Linked DNA regions of Homo sapiens. The protein of the gene in region 4 interacts with the protein of the main gene of each other region in a biochemical or structural test. Each region holds a gene or a part of one and is shown on either strand. Other genes may lie near its edges.

Region 1 (3,500 bases), on a different chromosome or scaffold from region 4:
CCTTCTCTGAGGCTTTCCCTTTCCTCTCATAGCAACAGAAATGCCCTCCTCTGCTCTACGTGGCCCCATCCTCTAGGGCCCACATCAGCCACCACCTCCAGGAAGCCTTCCCTGACTGCTCTGCCCTCCTGCCATGGCCAGCAGCCCTCGCTGCATTCTTCTCACAGTATCTGCGGCCATACCTCCCTCCTCCTTATCTCTCTTGTCAGCATGTGAGCCCCATGGAATGGGGTCGGAGGGGGGCAGCCTGGACCCTGTGAGCTCTGACAAGCCCAGCACAGCGCCAAGCACACAGTAGGTGCTCCAGGAATGTTAGCTGAAGCTTGTGACAGATGCCAAGAGGCCACTGGGGACCAGTCATTCCACACTGACTTGTTGTTTGTGTACTGGCACCAGCTCTGTGCAGGGCACTGTGTTAGGTGGTGCAGGCCCAGCCCCTGCTCTCATGGGGTTTAGAGTATACTGCAAGAGAATAACATGAACAAGTATATGTAAACCGCAACTTCAAACTGTTCTAGATTAAAGGAACCTGAAGACACAATGCATAGAGGCAATGTGCGACTGCACTAGATCCTGGACTAGCAAGCGCAATTGCCATGGTAAATGTGCGTATGGGTCGTATTACATGTCCCAAATTTGATAGCTGAACTCTGGTTACTTAAGCAAATGCTCTTGTTCTTAGGAGATACATGAAGAATTTAGGGGTAAACAGGGATAATGGCTCCAGCTTACTCTCAAATGGTTCAGAAAATATGCATATCAATAAACAGTCAGTGAGAAAACGTGGGGCCAGTGAGCCTGGGGGAAGGGTATGTAGGAATTCTCTGTGCTACTGTTGCAACTTTCACAAAGTTTGAATTATTTCAAGATAAAAAGTGTTTTTTTTTTTTTAATTCAACCTAAAATTGTACAAAATAGAGATGAACAGGTAGGCCTGGTTTGATCTAGGAGGGAACAGCGCCTGAAAATGTCCTGTGTCTGGTAGATGGAGGGCATGGTGCATGCAAGTAGCCGGGGCTCCTAGGACCCAGACCTAGGGGGCTCGTGACGGCCTGGGGGCGCGCACGATGTGAGCCTGGGGGAGCACCTTTCTCGATGAGCTGGCGCCAACGCTTGGCCCAGTCGGTGAGCTGCTGCCCGTACGCCTTCTCGATCTTGGCGCGCTCCTGCACGCAGTTCATCAGGTCGTTGCATAGACGGTGGCCGTCATCGATGCGCTTCACGGTCCGCTTGTAGTTCCCCACCTGGCGGCCAAGCAGCGAGCACCACTCCCGCGGGTTCCCAGCGTCCCCAGCCCCGCCCGCCGCATCCAGCACGGCCACGCCCACTGTCTTCCGCCCCGCCTCCCCGCTTACGGCCTCGCCGTCCCCGCCCCCGCCCCCGCCCCCCGCCCCGCGGCGCAGCGGCAACACCCCAGGGAAACTAACTTTCGGAGGCTCCAGCACCCTGCCTCAGGCCCCGCCGTCTACACGCACCCTCACCCCAATTTAAACATGATTTCCTTGCTGCCACAAAATGCAGAAGGATTTTTAGAATTTGGACTTGGGCTGGAATGAATTATTCATTTTGTTTTTGCGAGTTAAATCTATTATATTTATATAGAGTCATATAAGCGTTGAGTTGAGCTGCAGCTTCTTGACATAATATTATGTTTTGTCGACATCTCATTAAACGCTTATTAATTTAGGTTTGGCAGTTTTCGTCTTGGGTTTCCGGAGCCAATAGCAATTTTTTTTCTCCAGGTCTCAAATATTTCCGAAGGTTCTGAAAATGCTGGCTTCTGGCTGTGCCTCCCGCTCTGCGGCCCCGTGGGGCTCTGGGAGCTCACTCCCTCTCTCTGTGTCCGGCGCTCCACCCCTGCCCACCTCAGGATGGGGGGCGAGCGAGGGAAATAGGAACAGCTGAGAAAGGCTGTGCTGTACCTGCCTGATGGAAGTGCCACAGAGTCACAAAGGGCCTGTTCCCACATTGTGAAATGCCACAGGCTCTCTCTGGGGGCAGCTGTGGGGAGAGAGGAGCTCCTGGCTCAGTGGGCAGTGCTCTTAGCCACTTCATGGCTACCGCTGCCTGTTGGACACCCAGGGCTTTGGAGGGGCCTGGGGGACTGCGGAGTGGGGCCTGAGGTCATGGGGTGAGTGATAAGGGAGCCTGGCCTCCAAACAGCCAGGCTGTCTGGTCCCCGAACCTGGGGATCATGAGAGCCTCACCTCCCAGAAGCTGTCGGTGGTCTCCTCTGGCGCCAGTGAGGCCTCATCGTAGGAGCTGGACATGGTGTAGCCGCAGGGGGATGGACAAGTGCGGAGCTGCGGTTAGCAGGCTCGGCTGCTCATGCACTGGGAGGGCAGGAGAGAGATCCCTGGAGATGAGGGAAGGGCCTTCCACCCTTTGCCCCATTCCAGGCCTGGGTCCCCAAACCGATGGGACCCAGGGAGGCTTGCATTAGGATGCCATCTTCCTGTCCAGAGACTAACTCACCAGACTTAGGTAACCCCAAGAGTCGCCCTGTAGCACCCTCATGCCCAACTCCCCATCCCTCCTCCTTCCCCCTCCCTGGAATCCATCCTCTATCCAGTATGAGCACCTCCGTTCAGAAGCCAGCCCCAGCCCCCAGAGCTGGCTCTCTCTCCTGGACTGTTGGAGCCCAGGCTCAGCGCCTCCTCAGTTATCTGAGCCCCGGGACCCTGTAAATGCCCTTCTGTCTGCCCTTGCTCCCAACCTCAGCAGCCCCCATTAGCTTCTTACAAGTCTCCTGAGAGTCCCAAATGTGTGGTGTCCTGGCCCACAGGTCACACCACCGAGATCTATGGGAGCGTCTGGGGTGGCTGTGTCTGCCCTGGATCTGTCGGCAGGCATCAGGGTTATCCAATCTAGGCCGTGCGCTGCCCCAGGGCCGAGGTGGGTACTCCCCTCCTCCCTTCCCCCAGCCAGGCCTCACTGTTACCCCAGGCAAGAATGGCTCAGTAGTCAGGAGCCAGGACTCAGAGGGCCAAGGGCCTGGTTTTCAAAGAGGCAGCAGAGTCCAGGCTGCGCCTGGCCCTGATACAAGCTGCCAGCCTCTAGCTGGATCCCGGCACCAGGGGACACCTCCCTGCTTCTGCACTGCAGTCCCAGGACTGTGAACCCTGACAGTGTGGATGCTCAGGGAAGGCTGGCCTCTGTAAGATTCAGCCCAACCTGGGGGTCCAGCAGTTGGCTCTCAGGCTCAGGGCAGGGGCAATAACACGTAAGAATGGTTGGTGGAGGATGTCCCTCCCCCTAGGGCTCCCCATCTGTCCAGGGCCTGGGGCTCTTTCCCAGTAATAACCCAGTATTGCCTCTTGCACCCCTCAGGCATCTAAACATATTTTGTTCCCTCCCTTTTAGAAGAACCACAGACAGACTTTCCCATAAACTCACGCACAGTGCGGGTGGGTGAGAGGGAGGACGGCTGGATTTCATCAAGGGACAAAGAAATGAGTCTGAATTTTTCTTTTCTTAACTTGGCACTTTTCACTTATAAA
Region 2 (3,290 bases), on a different chromosome or scaffold from region 4:
TCGTCAGGATTTGTGCGTCCTTGACTCTGCCCCACCCAGTGCTCCCAGCAGGGGCAGGTGCAGGAAGCTCACTAGGTGGAGATGTTGGAATTGGTTTTTCTTGCAGACAAAGACCTGCGGACCAAGGGCTTCAGCCTAGAGTCGTGCCGCAGCATGGTGAACCTCATGGATGTATCCTTCCGTTTGCTTTTGTCTCCTGAGTGGGGTTTTGGGTGGAGGTATCGGTGCTGGGAGAACTGTCCCAGGACAGCACAGAGAACAGGACAGAGCCATGCGGAGTGTGGACACACAGTGCCCCATGCTCAGATGTCTCCCTGGACGTCTTCCTGTTGGTTGGGAGGGAGAAACTGAGGCACAGACCTGTGTCAAGTGAAAGGTGGAGCAAGACCTGGGTCCCCATTGACCCTGAGGCTGGTGCTATTTCTGACCCCTCCCCAGCCCACTCCACTGCAGCCCAGCTCAGAGAATAAGGCAAGCCCGGCTGTGGGCTGACTGTACATGGCTTTTGCTGCTTCTCCTCACCCAGCCCCAAGTCGACTTGCCGGCTCGGCGGCCATCTCCCCTTCTGCACAGTTGCCCACTCTCCCATGACTGGTCTAAGTGATGGAATTTCCTTCTTAACGGCCACCCAGCGTGATGGCAATGGGAAGCTGGGCCTGGTGGAGTTCAACATCCTGTGGAACCGCATCCGGAATTACCTGGTAGGTTGTCCCCACTCACCTCAGTCATGCAGGTGCGGGCCGGGCAGGTGGGAAGGGCCGGGTGACTCAGCCTGGCCCTCACCCTCTGCCGCCACCTCAGTCCATCTTCCGGAAGTTTGACCTGGACAAGTCGGGCAGCATGAGTGCCTACGAGATGCGGATGGCCATTGAGTCGGCAGGTGAGACTCCAAGGCTGACGGCACCTGTGGGGCCCAGGACAGGTAGCCCCACTGCTCCTATGCCCCAGGCCCTTGTCCCTGGGGTGCTAGTGGTGACATGGTAACAGCCATCTTGTCCTTTTCCCCACGGTTACTAGCACCCTGCCTAGCCCCAGCCCCCTCCTGGGGACCCAACCCCTCCCCCATCCTGTTGGGCAGGGGCTGCGCCTCACTGACCTTCACTCACTCTCCTGGACCAGGCTTCAAGCTCAACAAGAAGCTGTACGAGCTCATCATCACCCGCTACTCGGAGCCCGACCTGGCGGTCGACTTTGACAATTTCGTTTGCTGCCTGGTGCGGCTAGAGACCATGTTCCGTGAGTGTCCCCAACTGCCTCCCACCCTCCAGCTCCGTCCCAAACGCGTCCCCCAGGAGCTGGGGGGAATGACAGATGGGTGAATTAGCAGATACAGGCCAGTGCTGTGGGTGTGTGCCAGAGAGGCCTGGGTCTGGGTTTGGGGGGCCCTGGCTGAGTGCCAGGAGAGTCGGGGAGGGAGGGAGTTGACAGTGGCTTCTCAGGCAGCAGGAAGGGGTGAAGCTTCCCAGCTTCAAGGGGTGTCAGCTTGCGGTACTGTGGGGAGGTAGAGAGGGACCAGGCAGGAAGGGGGCCAGGCCTGGCCCTGCGTGAATATCCCACTGAGTTTTCAGCCCTGTATCACCTTTTCTTGAACACACAGGATTTTTCAAAACTCTGGACACAGATCTGGATGGAGTTGTGACCTTTGACTTGTTTAAGGTGGGAACCTCCCTGGGCCCATGGTTGGGGAAGAGTTCCAGGCGATCGAATTTTCTTATCTGGCCAGTGTTCCCTGTCCTTTCCTGGAAATGAGCCTGGGCCTCAGAGCCAACCCTGAAGCCCGGGCCACCTGAATCCTGAAAGGCTGGGGTGGGGGTGTCTGGATTCTGGGAAAGGAGCAGGAGGGGAGGTCCAGGCCCTTGGAGGCCCCTATGGGAGCAGCACTCTGGTTTCCCAGGGGTGGAGGAGGTAAGAAAGTAACCCCTCCATGAGGTTCCTGAGGTGGCTCCTGAGACGTGGAGTTGGGGGCTGGACCTGGGGTTTGGGTGGGGAAGAAGCCAGGGAGCCATTTCTGCGGCCCCAGCTGACCTGCCTGTTCTCCCGCAGTGGTTGCAGCTGACCATGTTTGCATGAGGCAGGGACTCGGTCCCCCTTGCCGTGCTCCCCTCCCTCCTCGTCTGCCAAGCCTCGCCTCCTACCACACCACACCAGGCCACCCCAGCTGCAAGTGCCTTCCTTGGAGCAGAGAGGCAGCCTCGTCCTCCTGTCCCCTCTCCTCCCAGCCACCATCGTTCATCTGCTCCGGGCAGAACTGTGTGGCCCCTGCCTGTGCCAGCCATGGGCTCGGGATGGACTCCCTGGGCCCCACCCATTGCCAAGCCAGGAAGGCAGCTTTCGCTTGTTCCTGCCTCGGGACAGCCCCGGGTTTCCCCAGCATCCTGATGTGTCCCCTCTCCCCACTTCAGAGGCCACCCACTCAGCACCACCGGCCTGGCCTTGCCTGCAGACTATAAACTATAACCACTAGCTCGACACAGTCTGCAGTCCAGGCGTGTGGAGCCGCCTCCCGGCTCGGGGAGGCCCCGGGGCTGGGAACGCCTGTGCCTTCCTGCGCCGAAGCCAACGCCCCCTCTGTCCTTCCCTGGCCCTGCTGCCGACCAGGAGCTGCCCAGCCTGTGGGCGGTCGGCCTTCCCTCCTTCGCTCCTTTTTTATATTAGTGATTTTAAAGGGGACTCTTCAGGGACTTGTGTACTGGTTATGGGGGTGCCAGAGGCACTAGGCTTGGGGTGGGGAGGTCCCGTGTTCCATATAGAGGAACCCCAAATAATAAAAGGCCCCACATCTGTCTGTGATGTGTTTCTCCCCAGCCTACTGCCTGGAGGGCACCTGCAGGCCCCGGCCCATGGGGGCAGCTCGTGGCCTCAGCTCACCCCTCCCCTCCAACCCCTCCATCTCCTTCCCCTTGACCTTGAAGCTTGAACCCCTACTGGAGTACTGGGTATCTGGGCAAGACCACCCCTGGCCCTGGGAGGTTGGGAAGGAGGGGCCCTAGCTGCAGGGACAGGGCCACACAGCTGAGGTCCCACATGGCTCTGCTGATCCTACATGCCCTCCCCGCCGCCCAGGAGGCCTGACCCCTACCTTTCTTGCACACTTCGGCCCGTTGAGGTGAGGCTCTGGCTGAAATTCAAACCTCTACTTAGCACACACCCGGCCCCCCAGAGAGCTCCCCCGAGCACAGAGCCGCCTTCAGGTCCCTCTGTGGGGAGCCCCTGTGACCCAGACACCTGCACTTACATAAGCCGCTCCAGGGCCTGCTGGGATCTGGGATTTTCTTACCAGAGATAAGAGT
Region 3 (3,500 bases), on a different chromosome or scaffold from region 4:
TTACACTTGAAATGTCAGTAAAAATAAGTAAATTCCATTTGGTCACTTAAGGAATTAGAGAGAAATATATGAGCTGTTTTATAGTTTTGTAAATGGAAGATTCTTACAAAATTCTTATGAAATAATTGTGCATTGTTTAAACGGCCCTGAGGGAAAGACTACAGATAAAAAGAAAAGGAATTTTCTTTTATTTTGTTTTTTAGAAATATTAATATCCTCAGAGAGAAACAGAGAGAGAAAAAAAAATCTACATTATCAATCTCTTCACATTTAGCACTCATTTTTAGTTTTGTAATTTAATTATGGCATTTTAAGTAGCATTTTAAAAATTTAAATTCTAACTTGTTATTTTAAGAAAATTTTTATAATGCCATAGATTTTGATTACAGTTAAAAGAATTTTAATATAACTGCATTATAATGTTACCTTTTTGGATAAAGTCTAATCAAGTTAATTTACATGTTTTCAAATCCATGTAGCTTTTTAGCTTTTCATTTTCTCATTTAGTATAAATCATATTTATTTCCACTACAATTGTTCCTAATTTAAAAACTCACATATTTTAGAAATTTAGTTTAGAAGAACTTAGTTTCACTTAATAGGGGTTATATTTCTTTATCAGAGAACCTGAGCTATTGGTGTTCTGTTTTCAAAAGGGTCCTTGAAGACGTTTATTATGATGACCATAGTTGGTGAGCTGTAAGCTTATTCCTTATTGCTTTAGAACTATCTGCTTTCATATTAAATATTGTCCCTTTTGGAAATAAACTCTTCGCCTAAGCAAAAATATATTTAGCTGTACCTTTTTTTTCTTTACCAAAACTACCTAGTTAGAATGAGACACATTGCAGCCCATCACCTACTTATTTTATCCTCACGATAACCAATTATACACTTGAGTCTCCCAGCTTTATAAGGCTAGAATGACAAAGGCTTTGAATCATTTCCTTCATTTTAGTCCAGCTCTACTGATGTGAGCCAAGATTTAGTCACCTGGGGAAGCCTCTGTAGTTTCTGTAGATGATTACATGATATGGGGAAATAAATTGTTTCCATAACATTTATTCTGCTCTAAACAGATTCTTCATTCTTTCTCTTTTAAAGATCTATCATATTAATATAGCACTAAAAAGAAAGCTAATGCTATTTAAAGATGCTATTTAAAGATGCTATTTAATAGTAATATTATGTGTCTAAGGAGGAAAAAAATTATATTCAGAGTCATCTTCTTTGGTTTGGGTAAAGAATATGTTCTTCCCCAGCTGATTATTGGCAGGGAGCAGAAAGAAGCCATACTTTAATGGAATATTTTTTTGCTTCTCTCTCTCTTTCTCTCTCTCTTTTTCTTCCTTCTCAGAAGCAATGATACAGAAAAAGGAAGTGCTCACATGCCTCTAGTAAGGCTTCTTTTATATAAATTGTTAAGGCATTTGGATAGATTCAACTTATATAGGAACTTCACTTTCATGCAGAGAAAACAGGCTCCTGCCCCTCCCACCCTGTATTAAGGCACACTTAACATGATGTAGGTGGTCAAAGCTGTAGGCCGGGGCGGAGGAGCAAAAGGGGACCATGCTTGGTTCACCTTTCTCCTGGCCTAAGTGGGCCTCTGCACTCTGCGCTGTGACACTGGGGAGCACACTAGAGGTGGTCCGTTCTGAGCTGAACAAAGGATGCTCATAGTACTCCTCATCGGAATTGTAAGGGTCATCATCAGGCACAGACACTGAGATGGAGGGGGCTAGGAGTCCACGCCTCTCCCCGCTGGTGGCAGGTTCATGGCTGGGGAACCTGTGTAGAGGACCCACTTGATCCTCAGCCCCTTCATCTACAAACAGACACACAGGAAGAAACTGCAGGGAGAACTGGACAACACAGACACAAGATCAGACGGACGAAACAAACACCTACACAAGGGCAGGAAGGGCCACAGAAGCAGCACAGCAGGATGAAGGGAAATTAGCAAGATCAAGCTGATGGAGGATGGGAGACAGTGAATGTTTCATGCCTCAGTAACTGCTGAATTCCACCTATCCCTTAAGCAAGTTTGCCATTGATCTAAGTGAACCAAAAGCATTGACAGCCCTGCGGCAAAATAAAAATCATCTGTACATTCCTCTCAAACAAGTCAGAATAACCAAGGAACGTTGGAATAGAAACAAAGCATTACAAAACAAATGCATTCTTTGGAGGAAATTATTTCATGAAGGTTAACTCTACTCATGCTTAGATCAATATGTTTATAAGTTTAAAAAGAAGAAAGTTATTAGGATTTAACGCCTGTAAGATTATGAAGAAAACAGTCCTGTTTAAAACATAGTCTTAATTATCTAGGATGCACAAGTAGTGTTTTGGTTAATTTAATTCTAGTTAATAACTTTAACCAGAAAGTCATTTTTAATTTCAATCCTGTTAAGAAAAATCTACAATGCATTATGCCTCTTTCCTGCCTTAATAAGAAATGCGCAGTCAGCATAGCTCTTTCTTTGGATGCTAAGGCTAATGTAGTACCTAGAGGCATCATTTTAAACCAGGTTCTGATTTGCAGGACACTAAAAGTATACTGTTTTAAGAAAGCCTCTAATATTATAAACTTGTTTTCTTATGTTTTGTTTTCCTTCTGAAAGCTTAGCAGAGATACAATTAGCTAAAAATTTCTGCAGAGTCGGCTGCAGATTCATCAAGACTTTATTCCATGTAGTTTCATTTGTACCACTGGCTCTTGGCTGTTTTTCATGTTTCAAACCTCTTATTGCATATTTCTTATTGAAATGCTAAAGTAACTACTCTCATTTCTGTTCTTTCCTGTATCTTGCCTAGGAAATTTGCATTATTTAAACATATCTCCTTAAATATACAACTGTAGATCAGTCTGCTTAGCATTTGGATTCTCGTATAACTCAGTGAGCACTTGGCTTCTGATGTGGTGCAGACGTTACATCTCAGGCCTATGTGGTGGTTGCTAAATTTGCTAATCACTATTTATTTACTTATATTGAGATATCAATTTAAAATTTCATGACTCTCAATAATAAGAACAAAATCTATAGTATCTATCTGTACAGTTTTTATTTATATCAGATTTTAAGAAGACAAAATTATAGCATTAATTTGCAAATATACTGTATTTTTAGGACAGTAACTTATTTTTGGCAACCAAGTGCTGACAACTAGAAATAAGTCTGAAATCATGAGGATACTAAAATAACATTTTGTAGAGAGAATACATTTAATCTTTCAAGCACATTATTTACTGATTGTTCCATGGAAGATGTTTCTGGATGGATGCTCAGAACTTTCTCAGCCACAATGCTTTTTATATCATGGGATAGCAGAAGCCTAAAATAACGTTTGATATTCTTAGTTCAACTCGGCACGATTTCGCAGCTGAGCAGATAATTGTCCAAGATCTGGCCTACAACACTGACTGAATCATAGCCCTGGCTTGTCACATGTCCTAGCCATTCATATTTCTCTCAGTGGATCTCTGGGGCTGTAAA
Region 4 (3,500 bases):
GAAAAGTCGGCAACTACCCAGCTCCCCTGCACCAAACTGGGCAGAAGTGGATCCTCTGAAAATTGCACACACCCATGTTTAAATGTACACACAGAACTCTTGCCACAGGCAAGCGGAGATTTGTCATCTGCTGTCCCTGCCTCATCTTCTTCCTGAAATCCACTCCATGCCAGGAATAAACTGCATGCTCTCCACCAGCCCAAACTGACCTGCCTTCCCGCCAGCCATCCCGGGCAGGGTGACCTGGCTTAGTACATCGGGTTCAGAGATCTTTCCAGTTTACTCGTTGAATAAAAAGTGAGGGCTGATCGAGAAAGTAATGGCAGTCAGGGAAGGCGAAGGAGGTAAAGAAGAGATTTTACAAATGAAGTAATTCAACAGAGTGCTGACATTGGTAAACTGGCAAACAGATTTCAGGGTGGTTGGTTGAGAGTAGAGTAGAAAAGGATTAAATAAAGCAAACTTGTGGTGTACTGAATCTTAGGAATTCCATGTATCCAATAAGTATAGTCATTTATGAATTAATAAATTCGGCCTAAGAAGCCTTCTTATCGCTTAAATCAAGACTAAGTAACAATATATCAGTTTTAAAAAGTCATTATATCAGAAAATCATTTAAATGATACACATAGATTTCCAAGATTTTACTTTAACCGAAACTATATAAATGTGAATTTGTTCACCCATCTTTTGACACAGGGCTCAGGTCTTCTCTTGGTGTCTGGATCAGCCAGTTGAAATTTCTTGTCTGTTTTGCCTATGCCACATTAATAATGCACTGTCTGGGTCCTCCGATTTCAGTTTGGATTTTGGGTTTACATTGTGGAGTCATCTGAATGCAGAATCCTTCAGGGATTTTACTTTTTTTTTTTTTTTTCATGGTCTTTACCATCCCATTTGATAGTAAATATTACTCACCTTTATGAAGTCTTTCCAAAACATTCAACTAAATTTTCTTAAAATCATTGAATGATTTGAAGAGCTTATTCCTCAGCACTTTTACTCCATCAGCTTGCACCTTATTTTTTAATCTTTTTTTGAGACGGAGTCTCGCTCTATCGCCCAGGCTTAAGTGCAATGGCGCGATCTTGGCTCACTGCGACCTCCACCTCCTGGGTTCAAGCAATTCCGCCTCAGCCTCCGCCGTAGCCGGGACTACAGGTACACACCATAATGCTCGGCTGATTTTTGTATTTTTGTAGGGATGGGGTATCGCCATGTTGGCCAGGCTGGTCCCGAACTTCTGACCCAAGTGATCCACCCACCTCGGCCTCCCAAAGTGCTGGGATTACAGGTGTGAGCCACCGCGCCCGGCCAGCTTGCACCTTATTTAGGATATGTGATTATTATAGCAAGTCTGGTGTACATACAAGATTTTGAATGGGCACAGATGACCTTTAGTAAGTGCTTGGCTGTGATAAGAGGCAGTCCTGACTGCAGATCAGGCTGTGTGGACCCCAGCCTTGCATGTTTACAGACCTTCATGTCTTATTCTTACAGGGTATCAGAAGAACACCTACTGGGGAAACTTATAAATTAGTAAAAGGTGGGCATTCTCCCCGCCCATCTTCTGTCTGTCTGCCAGGACTAGCACAGCACTTTGAAGTCATTCACATAGAATCCCAACTTAAGAGGGTAAAATCCTCCTCAACAGACTGAAAATAAGTTTAAATTCCCTTTGCTATATTAACTCCCCTGAGGAAAGAGTCTTAGATCAATGTCCAACACTAAAAACAGTTTTAAATCAGCAAGTGAGAATTAAATCTGAAGCAATTGATAATAATGTTTCATTCATTCCTCTCCTTTGGCCCCGTCCACCCTACTGCTAAATCCAGGCATCAAAGAGAAGAGGGACATAATTATCTCTAGTCCCAGCTGCTGGTTTTCCTTCCAGCCTATGGCCCAGTTTTCTGTTTTACTGAGAAGGCTGGTGATGTTATCTTGGGATCTAAGTCTGCAGTTTCACCACAAAAAGTCCAGGGATGCACTTTCATGCTTGTGTCCTCCTCCCTGGGATAGCAAGGATATTAGAAGACCCCTGGCTCTGTAATTGCTTGTCATGTGCTCTACAGACGCCACAGAATGCCAAGAACGAAGTGCTGGGAAGGACAAATTCATGGAACCGTGGGACGGTGCTCCTCCCCCAGCGTAAAGGACAGCTCCTCCTCCTGAATTGGAGCCAGCGTTCTAAATCATGTGTCAACAGAGTTGTCCTGGATCGGATCCAGTTCTGCCATTGATTTGCAGGTCATTTCAGTGGTACCTGTTTCCAGTTGTTCTTAATTGAACAGTGGCACCAAACTATTGTCTTGCCTCATCCCCCTCCCATGGCCTGTCCCCCAAAAAGAGACTTCTTGGGTAATTAATCAGGGCAACATCAGGCAGTCTGGGCGCGGTGGCTCACGCCTGTAATCCCAGCACTTTGGGAGGCCGAGGCGGGCAGATCATGAGGTTAGGAGATTGAGACCATCCTGGCTTTGTGAAACCCCGTCTCTACTAAAAATACAAAAAATTAGCCGGGCGTGGTGGCGGGCGCCTGTAGTCCCAGCTACTCGAGAGGCTGAGGCAGGGGAATGGCGTGAACCCGGGAGGTGGAGGTTGCAGTGAGCCGAGATCGCACCACTGCACTCTAGCCTGGGCGACAGAGCTAGACTTCTTCTCAAAAAAAAAAAAAAAAAGGAATCTCTTTGGTTTTATATATATTTTTTTTATATATATAATATATATTAAAATATAATATATATATTTATATAATATAATATATAAATATATTATATATTATATATTTTATATATTATATATTATATATATTATATATTATATATTTATATATTTATATATTATATATATTTATATATTATATATTTATATATATTATATATTTATATATAATATATATTATATATTATATATTATATATTATATATTATATATTTATATATATTATATATTATATATATTATATATTATATATTTATATATTATATATTTATATATATTATATATTATATATTATATATTTATATATTATATATTTATATATTATATATATTTATATATATTATATATTATATATTATATATGTATATATTATATATGTTATATATTATATATATTTATATATATAATATATTGTATATATTATATATCTAATATATTATATATATTATATATATTATATATTATAATATATATTATATATTATATATTATATATATTTTTATATATATAATATGTATAATATATAATATATATAAAAACATATATAATATATATTATATATTATATATATATTATATATATTATATATATTAAATATATTTTATATATATTATATATATATACACATATATATATATAAATGAGGCCAGGCTCGGTGGCTCACACTTGTAATCCCAGCACTGTGGGAGGATCACTTGAAGCCAGGAGTCTGAGACTAGCCTGGGCAACAAAACAAGATCCTGTCTCTACAAAAGGAAACTGTAAAAATTAGCTGGGCA
Region 5 (3,500 bases), on a different chromosome or scaffold from region 4:
CAGACTCAGGGAAGGAACACAGAAAGCAAGTAGGAAACAGACTCCTAGCCCAGGTTGTTGGAGCAGCCACTTGTGGCCGAGCTTAGTGGTGGAAAAGATTGGAGCTCTGTGGTTAACAAAGGTGAGAGTAAAGGAAATGAATACTGTTAAGTGGCCACTAAGTGACAAATGTTGTGCTGGGTAGTTTTCACATAAAATCTCTTACTCTTATATATAATCTCCCTTATTATTAATATACAGCTCTGTGAGGAGAAATTACTTTTACAGCTAAAGATCAATTTCAGACAGGGAAAAGTAATCTGCCCAAGGTCACAGTAAGAGCTGAGACCTGAACCCAAATCTGACCAGCTCTAGCCACAAATCTCCAGGCACTTCAGCTCAATTACCAGCAAGGTGGGACTATCTGGTCAATGGTAGCCTGAAGCCACTCCTCACCCGTGGCTCCACCTTGAGTCTTGCCACCTGTAAACATGCTGCTCTCAGAGATTCCCTCCAAGGACGCACTGTTCCCATGCTCCTCTCAACAAGGCACTCTACAAGGGGCACCAGAACATTCCCATCCTCCTATCCCACACCCATCTCTCCTAGGACTCTCCTCACAGTCTGCAGTGACTTCTCTAGTTCTAACAAAGCAAGTGGAAAGGGGGAAAAATCAGTCTCCTAATATCACACCTTTGCAATCTCAGGCCTCACTCCCTTCCTCCAACTTATCATCTGTGGTCTCCTTGAAGCCACATCCCACAGGAAAAGGCACAGAGTAAGAAGAGATGCTGTGAGTTAACGGAGACTGACACAGAACAGTGACAGCAGAGGCAGGCCCTACCACATCGAGGCTGTGGCATTAGAGCACTTCCTCAAAGACAAGATCTCTCCAGATAGCGTCCTGGGCTAGGCACTTAGAAATAGGACAATATCATACCTTCACTCTACAGAAGGGGTTACCACCCAAAGCAGCTGCTTCCAGCCAACTGCCCTGTCTCCCTGCAAAACCAGCAGTGGGAAAGAGCCCTGACAATAGAGGGACTGCTGAGAGCTGCAAGAGAGGATGGGCGGGCCTCCTTGCCTCTGAATCAAAGGGCTTGGTGGCCAGGCACCAGCCCCTTAGGACAGCAGGTGCATTCGAACTCCTCCCCACCAGGTCCTCCTGAGAACTTAATCCTCATCTCTGTCCTGTCAGGGATCCTACGTAGTAAGCACTTACACTGTGCCACACTCCATGCTAAGCACTTTATACAGGTGCTAAGCACTTTATACAGGTTCTCATCAAATCCTCACAAAAACCTTATAAAATAAATGCCATTTAATACTATCCTTTTTACAGATAAGCAGCCCAGAGAGGTAGTCATATGCTTTAAGGTCACAGAGCAAGTAAGCTGCACAACAGGATTTTAATTCAAGCAGAGTCTAGGGCCCAAATGCTTAACTACTAAGCTCTGTCTCACCCCTCAAGACCCAGCCCTTCTCCCATCTACCACCATGGCATCCCCACCCTGCCTCAGCAAGAAGGTCTTGTCTGGGCCCTCAGCAGCTCTCTCCTGCAAACTGTGCAAACCGTAGGAGCTCACTGGCCTCCCTCCCCAACACCTGCCTGACAAACCACTGCCACTGTGGTCTCCCAGGCAGAGGCAAGTCAGTCCCACAACAGCCTCCGCTGACTCCCGTCGCCTCCAGGACTGAGTGTAATCTGCTGGACATGGCACACTAGGGCTATAGCTGTCTCCAACCAGTCCCAGCTTCCTCTCTACCACACCATATCTGTTCCCTACCCCTGCACAGAGTGATTCCCAGTTCCTTAGCCTCGGCACAGACAGGTGCCTCAGTAATTCAAGGCCTACCTCAAAGGTCACCTCTCCTTTAATGCCTTCCTGGCAGAGCTCCTCACAGTTCTTGGTAGAGGCCTTTATATTATGGTATGTAACACACAGGGTTATAATCATATGCCTCTACATCTGTCTTTTCCAAGAGTTCATCAATGGCACAAACCATGTCTCAATAAACTTTTGAATCCTTGGTGCCTAGCACTGGGCAAATGGGGAGGTATAATAATACTTATTGCAAATATTAATAAATGTGCCTCATTCCAAGAAGCTACCCAGAGCAAAGCTGGTAGCCAAGATCTCTAAACTCCAACTGAATCCTGTGCATCTGTGTACACACACACACAAGAGTCTGGAGAGAAGCTGGAGGTGTTGTGGGTCCCAGGACTGGGTGTGCTCAGCTCCTCCAGTTATCTGTGAAGCAGGCCCTTTTCCTAGGTTCACAGGAAACAGAGGATCCCAGCTGGGCGGGGGGGCCTGGAAACCCACACATCGGGGCAAGCCTGGGGTGCTGAGGAAACACTAAAAGGTCTGACTTCCCTTGGAAAAAACTACATCAGACAGGAAATACACAGGCAGGGATGGCTAGCTCTGGAGATCCGGACATGTGCTCCTGCCCCTCTCCCACTGGGAGTAACAGCCAGTACAAAGAAAACCCTTGATGACACCGGCCTGGGCCTTGCCCTCTCCCGTGCTGTGGGCCTAGCCCTCGGAGCAGGCCTCCTGGTGTGGTCTGCTCCCCAGCCACAGGGGTCAAGCCCCAGCCAGCTGGTTCCACTACTACCTCCCTTCTGAGCCCGCCTGCCTCATCAAGGCAGTTAGCTGTTTTCTTCCGCCACCCTCACCCTCTTCATCAAAGGTACTGCTCACAATTGTCATTGCCTGTTTTCATTTCCCTAAAAGCAAGCACCCATACTCCTTCACCTCAGAGGGCCTGGCATCTAGAAAAGTATCTAGTGAAGGATCAGCCAAAGACAGAAGCCTGGGGCCTCAGAAGTCCCCATGGACATGCTCAGCCAGTATTCAGAGTACCTCCACAGTGTCTACACCAGTGTTTACTGGGCCCACAAAGACCCTCAAATGGACAACCTCATTAAACACGAGTCTGAACCATCTCAACTCAGAAAACACCAGAAGAAAAAGTGTGGAGCCAGAGCCTAGAGAGGCTGAGGCTGTCTTGGGATACAAAAGCCAAAGTGGTCTTTGCCCTGTAATGCATGGTCTGAGCACAAAGGTGTCTCACAGAGGAGCCACGTGGACCACAGGGAACATGGGCTTGGGGTTGCTAGTCAGCCTCTGACTAGTGAGCTGGCCCCAGCTGAGGCCCTGGCACACACTGACACAACACCTTGGGCACAAACGATTCTCCATTTCCATTTGCTCATCTGTAAAATGGGACGAAAGGTCTCAATAGCACTCAGCTGGAACTCTACATAACTGCATTTTATTCATTTATGTCAGTATCTGCAACATAAAAGGCCAAACACCAACCTGGTTCCTGTCATACCACCAGGACAACCAAACTTGTCAACACCTAAGCACTTCCCCACCCCGCTTTTGAGCCAAATGACCACCCTAGAAATCAGGAGGTGTCAGCTCCATTTCACAACTGCTGACAAGAGAGGGCACAGAGTCAGGGCAGAAGAAGGTCTTACATATCAGTATGAGTGCTCCTTAAACCAC
Region 6 (3,500 bases), on a different chromosome or scaffold from region 4:
TGCAGGGGCTCTCAACTGTAATCCCAGCTCTTAGAGCAGCAGAGGTGGGAGGATAGCTTGAACCCAGGAGTTTGAGACCTGCTGGGCAATATAGCGAGACCCCATTCTCCACAAAAAGGAAAAACAAAAAAAGACAAGTAAACAAAGATCCTGATAGGATGACCAGCATAAAGTAGGTGCTGAATAAATAGAGACTGTTTATCATTATTATTATTATTATTATTTGAGACGGAGTCTCACTCTGTCACCCAGGCTGGAGTGCAGTGGTACGATCTTGGCTCACTGCAACCTCAATCTCCTGGGTTGAAGCCATTCTCCTGCCTCAGCCACCTGAGTAGCTGGGATTACAGGTGCCCACCACCGTGGCTAAGTTCTGTATTTTTTAGTAGGGACGGGTTGTCATCATATTGGCCAGGCTGGTTTCAAACTCCTGACCTCAGGTGATCTGCCCGCCTTGGCCTCCCAAAGTGGTGGGATTACAGGCGCGAGCCACCACGTCTGGCCGAGGCTGTTTATTATTATTATTTGTTAATTATTTATACCTATGTTTTCTTTTAAAATTTTACAGTTTTAATTCCTTTTTTTAAATTTTTGTTTGTTTGTTTGTTTGTTTATTTTGAGACAGGATCTCACTCTGTCATCCAGGCTGGAGTGCAGTGGCACAATCTCAGCTCACTTCAGCCTCTGCCTCCCAGGCTCAAGCAATTCTCCCACTTCAGCCTCCTGAGTAGCTGGGACCACAGATGTGCACCACCACTCCCAGCTAACTTTTTGTATTCTTGGTGGAGATGGGGTTTCATCATGTTGCAGTCTGGTCTCAAACTCCTGAGCTCAAGCAATACATCCATCTTGGCTTCCCAAAGTGTTAGGATTACAGGCATAAGCCACAGTGCCTGGCCTAGTTTTAGCTCTTATGTTTAATTAAGGTCCTTTATTCATTTTAAGTTTTATTTATTTATTTATTGAGACGGAGCCTTGCTCTGTCACCAGGCTGGATTGCAATGTCATGATCTCGGCTCACCGCAACCTCCTCCTCCCGGTTTCAAGCGATTCTCCTGCCTCAGCCTCCCAAGTAGCTGGGATTACATGCTTATGCCACCATGCCTGGCTAATTTTTGTATTTTTAGTAGAGATGGGGTTTCACCATGTTGGCCAGGCTGGTCTCGAACTCCTGCCCTCGGGTGATCCACCCGCCTCGGCCTCCCAAAGTGCTGGGATTACAGGCATGAGCCACCGTGGCTGGCCTAACTTTTTTATTTTTATTTTTTGTAGAGACAGAGTCTGGCCATGTTACCCAATCTGATCTTGAACTCCTGCTGTCATCTGATCCTCCTGCCTCAGCCTCCCAAAGTGCTGGGATAAGAGGTGTGAGGCACCATCCCCGGCCAGTTTGCAGTCTAAGTATGATGTTAGCTGTGGGTCTTTCCCTTTCCCTTTCTCTTTCCCTTTTCCTTTTCCTTTCCCCTTTCCCCTTTCTTTTTTCCTTTCCTTTCCTTTCCCTTCTGCTTTCCTTTCCCTTCCGCTTTCCTTTCCTTTCCCTTCCGCTTTCCTTTCCTCCCCTCCCCTCCTCTCCTCTCCTCTTTTCTTTCCTCTTCTCTCTCCTCTTCTCTCTTCCTCTCTCCTTTCTCCTCTGATATCTGAAGACTAAGCTGTGGATGTTTCATAAAAGTTCTTTCTGGGGTGGGTGCAGTGGCTCATGCCTGTAATCCAAGCACTTTGGGAGGCTGAGGTGGGCGGATCACAAGGTCAGGAGATCGAGACCATCCTGGCCAACATGGTGAAACCCCGTCTCTACTAAAAATACAAAAACAAAATTAGCCGGGCGTGGTGGCAGGAGCCTGTAGTTCCAGCTAGTTGGTGATAGAGTGAGACTCTGACTCAAAAGAAAAAAAAAATGCTTTCTGGCTGGTTGCTCTGACTCTTTCACCCTATAATCTCAGTGCTTTGGGAGCCTATGGCAGGAGAAGTGCTTAAGGCCACGAGTTGGAGACTGCAGCAAGCTATGATTGCAGGCCACAGAGCAAGACTTTGCCTCTAAATTAAAAATAAATAGATAATAAATAAAATAAAAGCTCTTTATTAGGTTGAAGGAGTTTACTCCTATTCCTAGTTTTCTGAGTATTTTTTGTTATAAAAGGGTGTTGCATTTTGCCAAAATTTTTTTCTGTGTCTATTTTCCTATATTCTATTGTTATCGTGTATTATATTAATTGGTTTTCAGATGTTAAACCAACCAAGCTTTCCTGGGTTAATTCTTTTTTTTTTTTTTTTTTTTTTTTTGAGATGGAGTCTCGCTGTCGCCCAGGCTGGAGTGCAGTGGCGTGATCTCGGCTCACTGCAGGGTCTGCCCCCTGGGGTTCACGCCATTCTCTTGCCTCAGCCTCCCGAGTAGCTGGGACTACAGGCGCCCGCCACCTCGCCCGGCTAATTTTTTGTATTTTTAGTAGAGACGGGGTTTCACCGTGTTAGCCAGGATGGTCTCCATCTCCTGACCTCGTGATCGCCCGCCTCGGCCTCCCAAAGTGCTGGGAATACAGATGTGAGCCACCGCGCCTGGCGTCCTGGGTTAATTCTTGTTTGGTCATTTGTAATCTTTTTTATGTGTTGCTGGATTTAGTTTGCTACTGTTTTGTTGAGGATTTTTATATCTATATTCACAAGGGATATTGGTTTGTGGTTTTACTGTGATGTCTCTGTCTGGTTTTGGTATGCTGGCCTCATAGATGAGTTGACAGTGTTCCGTTCCGAATTTCTTCGAAAAGTTTGAGAATAATTGGTATTAGTTCTTTACATATTTGATAGAATTTAAAATGAAGCCAGCCGTGTGTTTCTTTTTTCTTTTTTTTGAGACAGGGTCTCACTCTTACCCACGCTGGAGTGTTACCCACTATCACGTTTCACTGCAGGCTTGACCTCCCAGGCTCAACTCCTACCTCAGCCTCCTGAGTAGCTGGGACCTCAGGCATGTGCCACCATGTGTGGCTAATTTTTTTATTTTGATAGAGATGGGGTGTCCCTATGTTGCTCAAGCTAAAGTGAGGCAATCTGGGACTGCACTTTTCTTTGTAGGGATATTTTGATTACTCATTCAGTCTTTTGTTTTGTTTTGTTTTTTTGGAGACAGAGTCTCTCTCTCTGTCACCCAGGCTGGAGTGCAGTGGCACAATATTGGCTCACTGCAGCCTCTGCCTCACAGGTTCAAACGATTCTTGTGCCTCAGCCTCCAGAGTAGCTGGGACTACAGGGGCGCGCCACCACACCTGGCTAAATTTTTTTTTGTTTTGTTTTTAGTAGAGACGGGATTTTGCCATGTTGCACAGGCTGGTCTCAATCTCCTGAAGTCAAGCAATCCGCCTGCCTTGGCCTCCCAATGTGCTAGGATTATCATTCAGTCTTTTCACTTCTTATGGGTATATTCAGATTTTCTGTTTCTTCTTGTGTTAGTTTTGGTAGTTTGTATCTTTCTAGGAGTTTGTCCATTTCACCTATGTCATCTAATA
Region 7 (3,500 bases), on a different chromosome or scaffold from region 4:
GTCTTGTGGAGAAGTACTATTATCATCCCCATTCTGCAGACAAGGAAATTTGAGGTTCAGAGTGGGAAAGTCTGGGAAGATTGCTCAGGGGTAACCAGGTGATAGGAGCAGAACTTGAGCGTTTTATAAAAGACACTTAACTGCCCATCTGCTTGCTTGATGAAATGTAATGGCTTGGTTAAGTATTTAGTGCATGGGTCTTTTTTGGGAATTTGGAGCTCAAGCCCTTGTTGGATTTTTGCATAATGTATCTGTTGTGGTTTTATTAGCTTACTTCCTCCTCCCTTTTTCTAACTCTTATTTTTCACCCTATTTTAGGTTCCATACCCCATGAAGTGCCTCAGATATTAATTAATAGAGAACCTTTGCCTCATCTGCATTTTGATGTAGAGCTTCTTGGAGACTGTGATGTCATAATTAATGAATTGTGTCATAGGTTAGGTGGTGAATATGCCAAACTTTGCTGTAACCCTGTAAAGCTTTCAGAAATTACTGAAAAACCTCCACGAACACAAAAAGAATTGGCTTATTTGTCAGAGTTGCCACCCACACCTCTTCATGTTTCAGAAGACTCAAGTTCACCAGAAAGAACTTCACCACCAGATTCTTCAGTGATTGTCACACTTTTAGACCAAGCAGCTAAGAGTAATGATGATTTAGATGTGTCTGAATCAAAAGGTTGTATGGAAGAAAAACCACAGGAAGTACAAACTTCTAGGAATGTTGAAAGTATTGCTGAACAGATGGAAAATCCGGATTTGAAGAATGTTGGTTCTAGTACTGGGGAGAAAAATGAAAGAACTTCAGTGGCTGGAACAGTGAGAAAATGCTGGCCTAATAGAGTGGCAAAGGAGCAGATTAGTAGGCGGCTTGATGGTAAGAAAGGCAGTCGGACCATTTTGAAAGTATAAATGTCATAACAGTATTTCCAAAAAATTAGCTATTTCGGCAGGTTAATCGATAGGGTAGCTTTATGTAGTTGATTCTGTTTAGAGAAACTGTACAGTTCGTAATCAGAAAGGTAAATCTTCTGGTATCTTAACATGATATGGAGAAGGAAGTGTTTAATAGTGCTCTGTATGTTGTGTTTCTCTAGGGGATGGAAAAATAAGAATGGGTTATTAGCTGGCAGAAATGATGACAGATTTGAGTGCTTACTGTAGGTCAGCTGCTTTACATATGTTACCTGATTTTAATCTGAGGTAGGAACTATTACTCTTCTTCAGGTGGGAAAACTCAGGACCATAGAGGTTAAATACCTCATGCACAGTAACTACTAAGAAGTGGAAGAACCAGATTAAAATCCAGTCTATTTATGCTTAGAGCCTGCCCCCTTAACTACTATGCGGTGTTGTCTCAGATGTAGAACACATCTTTGTTTTCTCTGAGGACTTAGAAAAAACACGCGTGATTCTTCTCCACTGAATATAGGAATAGTTTCTACCCTGTTTAGAACATGCATAGTCTTTATCAATAAGTGTTAACTGACATGTGAAATCACTTTCTACTCTTTGGAAGCCGATGTTTTAAGTCCAAGTAGTCTGTATGGTGGAAATTCCTAACTTATGTTAAAAAAAAGAAAACCACTGTAACTTAGCTATAACAGTCTTATATAACTTAGAACTTTAAGTCTCATTCCATTTACCATACTTGGCGAAAACTGACAAATTTTAGACAACTGTATTTGAGTATTCCAGTCATTTGCTGTAAATACATTTTAGTTCAGTTGAATAAACCTTTGGCCTTTTTCATATTAGGCACTGTGGTAAGTTATGGAGACACAGTGATTAATGTTGTGTATAATTATAAATGTGAGTGATACTCATTAATACTTTGGTATAGGTGCTGCTGAAGAACAAAGTACTTTATTATTGTTTTGAACAAAACATCACACAAAAGGTAGATTTTTTTTTTTTTTTTTTTTTTTTTTTTTTGTGACGGAGTCTCACTCTGTCGCCCAGGCTGGAGTGCAGTGGCACGATCTCAGCTCACTGCAACCTCTGCGTCCCAGGTTCAAGAGATTCTCCTGCCTCAGCCTTCTGAGTAGCTGAAATTACAGGCATGCGCCACCTTGCTCGGCTGATTCTTGTATTTTTAGTAGAGACGGGGTTTCGCCATGTTGGTCAGGCTGGTCTCAAACTCCTGACCCCATGATCCATCCACCTCGGCCTCCCAAAGTGCTGGAATTACAGGCGTGAGCCACGGCGCCCAGCCCCAAAAGGTAGATTCTACTTGGAGATTAGATTACAGAAGGCTTTCTAAGGAGCAAAATATTTAACAATAAGTAGGGATTTAAAAAGAGCAGACGTGTTCACAGGGGAAACTAGAAAAAGCATAGAGGGATGCTTACGTTTGCAAATCGTGGCAGAAGTCAGAAAGTAGAAAAATTGCTACTGACTTAGATACACAGTTGTCTCTAGCGTATACAAAGTCTACCTATGCACTAAGACTTGCACTGGGAACTTTTCTTGAATGTCATTTTGACAGATGTGTCAAACGGACAATCTCTTTGCCCAGGAAACAGAGTTAACCTGGAACAGTCATTTTTTTTTAAATTTATTTATTTTTTGAGACGGAGTTTTGCTCTTGTTGTCCAGGCTGAAGTACAATGGTGTGATCTCGGTTCACGGCAACCTCCGCCTCCCGGGTTCAAGCGATTCTCCTGCCTCACTCTCCAGAGTAGCTGTAGCTGAGACCACAGGCGCATGCCCTCATGCTCAGCTATTTTTTTTTTTTTTTTTTTTAGTTTTTGTAGAAACAAGGTCTTGCCACATTGCCCAGGCTGATACCAAACTCCTGGGCTCAAGCAGTCTGCCAGCCTTGGCCTCCCAAAGTGCTGGGATTACAGGTGTAAGCCACTGTGCCCTGCCTGTGGTGTCTTGGGAAACTCATGAGTACTATGTGTCTGTTGTAATAGAGGGAAATAAGTGGTTTTCACAGTGATTTGTAGTGGACTGTGAAATTTTAGGGATTCAGGTCAGAGTTGTCACACAGGTTGTAGTCAGGGTGAGAACTGGGTCATGATGCAGTATGAAAAAGTTCGAGAGCCACTTTGGAGAGAACTTGAGATAGGCCACCTACCAGTGTGGTAACCAGGCTTTTGAGAATTCGTCTGGGATACGGTACAATAAATACTACATCTATTATGTGTGAAGAGATGTTAAGTTAGGGACATACTGTGAATTCAAGGATAGAAAACTTTTCCATCAGTTTTTAGGGATCCTACTCTTTCACTTAAACCCCAAATGGCCAAGCTAGGATTGATTTGGTGTGCTGTAGAAAGAACTTCATTGGTATTCATGGATTCACATTACATCTTAGAGGAGTTTTCAAAAGCGTCTTAGACTGTATGTGTATATACACACACATTCTGAAGCAGTAGGTGGGTCTTGGGGCCTGAGATCTCGGGTGAATGTAAATTTAGGTTCACAGGTGATACTGTAGATTCACAGTGTCTACAGAGTACACTATGAATTTGTGGTGACTACATTATTGACAAA

The links.
Region 1: the proteins of MAPT (region 4) and PACSIN1 form a complex in vitro, tested with the Homo sapiens proteins (one study listed by BioGRID).
Region 2: of the proteins of MAPT (region 4) and CAPN1, one has a biochemical effect on the other in vitro, tested with the Homo sapiens proteins (one study listed by BioGRID).
Region 3: the proteins of MAPT (region 4) and MAP2 form a complex in vitro, tested with the Homo sapiens proteins (one study listed by BioGRID).
Region 5: the proteins of MAPT (region 4) and PLCG1 interact in a test that uses a peptide from one of them, tested with the Homo sapiens proteins (one study listed by BioGRID).
Region 6: of the proteins of MAPT (region 4) and CHEK2, one has a biochemical effect on the other in vitro, tested with the Homo sapiens proteins (one study listed by BioGRID).
Region 7: the proteins of MAPT (region 4) and SIRT1 form a complex in vitro, tested with the Homo sapiens proteins (one study listed by BioGRID).

What each region holds. Positions count from the first base shown.
Region 1 is NC_000006.12:34,525,076-34,528,575, reverse strand, and holds part of PACSIN1 (protein kinase C and casein kinase substrate in neurons protein 1), read right to left. Parts: intron 2,334-3,500; 5' UTR 2,271-2,333; coding exon 2,208-2,270; intron 1,245-2,207; coding exon 1,088-1,244; intron 1-1,087. UniProt on the Homo sapiens protein: Plays a role in the reorganization of the microtubule cytoskeleton via its interaction with MAPT; this decreases microtubule stability and inhibits MAPT-induced microtubule polymerization.
Region 2 is NC_000011.10:65,209,217-65,212,506, forward strand, and holds the end of CAPN1 (calpain-1 catalytic subunit), read left to right. Parts: intron 1-106; coding exon 107-171; intron 172-632; coding exon 633-701; intron 702-801; coding exon 802-880; intron 881-1,119; coding exon 1,120-1,236; intron 1,237-1,597; coding exon 1,598-1,656; intron 1,657-2,043; coding exon 2,044-2,070; 3' UTR 2,071-2,790; downstream 2,791-3,290. UniProt on the Homo sapiens protein: Calcium-regulated non-lysosomal thiol-protease which catalyzes limited proteolysis of substrates involved in cytoskeletal remodeling and signal transduction. Proteolytically cleaves CTBP1 at 'Asn-375', 'Gly-387' and 'His-409'.
Region 3 is NC_000002.12:209,686,047-209,689,546, reverse strand, and holds part of MAP2 (microtubule-associated protein 2), read right to left. Parts: intron 1-3,500. UniProt on the Homo sapiens protein: The exact function of MAP2 is unknown but MAPs may stabilize the microtubules against depolymerization. They also seem to have a stiffening effect on microtubules.
Region 4 is NC_000017.11:45,901,054-45,904,553, forward strand, and holds part of MAPT (microtubule-associated protein tau), read left to right. Parts: intron 1-3,500. UniProt on the Homo sapiens protein: Promotes microtubule assembly and stability, and might be involved in the establishment and maintenance of neuronal polarity.
Region 5 is NC_000020.11:41,140,543-41,144,042, reverse strand, and holds part of PLCG1 (1-phosphatidylinositol 4,5-bisphosphate phosphodiesterase gamma-1), read right to left. Parts: intron 1-3,500. UniProt on the Homo sapiens protein: Mediates the production of the second messenger molecules diacylglycerol (DAG) and inositol 1,4,5-trisphosphate (IP3). Plays an important role in the regulation of intracellular signaling cascades.
Region 6 is NC_000022.11:28,728,321-28,731,820, reverse strand, and holds part of CHEK2 (serine/threonine-protein kinase Chk2), read left to right. Parts: intron 1-1,272; coding exon of another isoform or gene 1,273-1,401; intron 1,402-3,500. UniProt on the Homo sapiens protein: Serine/threonine-protein kinase which is required for checkpoint-mediated cell cycle arrest, activation of DNA repair and apoptosis in response to the presence of DNA double-strand breaks.
Region 7 is NC_000010.11:67,912,156-67,915,655, forward strand, and holds part of SIRT1 (NAD-dependent protein deacetylase sirtuin-1), read left to right. Parts: intron 1-318; coding exon 319-876; intron 877-3,500. UniProt on the Homo sapiens protein: NAD-dependent protein deacetylase that links transcriptional regulation directly to intracellular energetics and participates in the coordination of several separated cellular functions such as cell cycle, response to DNA damage, metabolism, apoptosis and autophagy.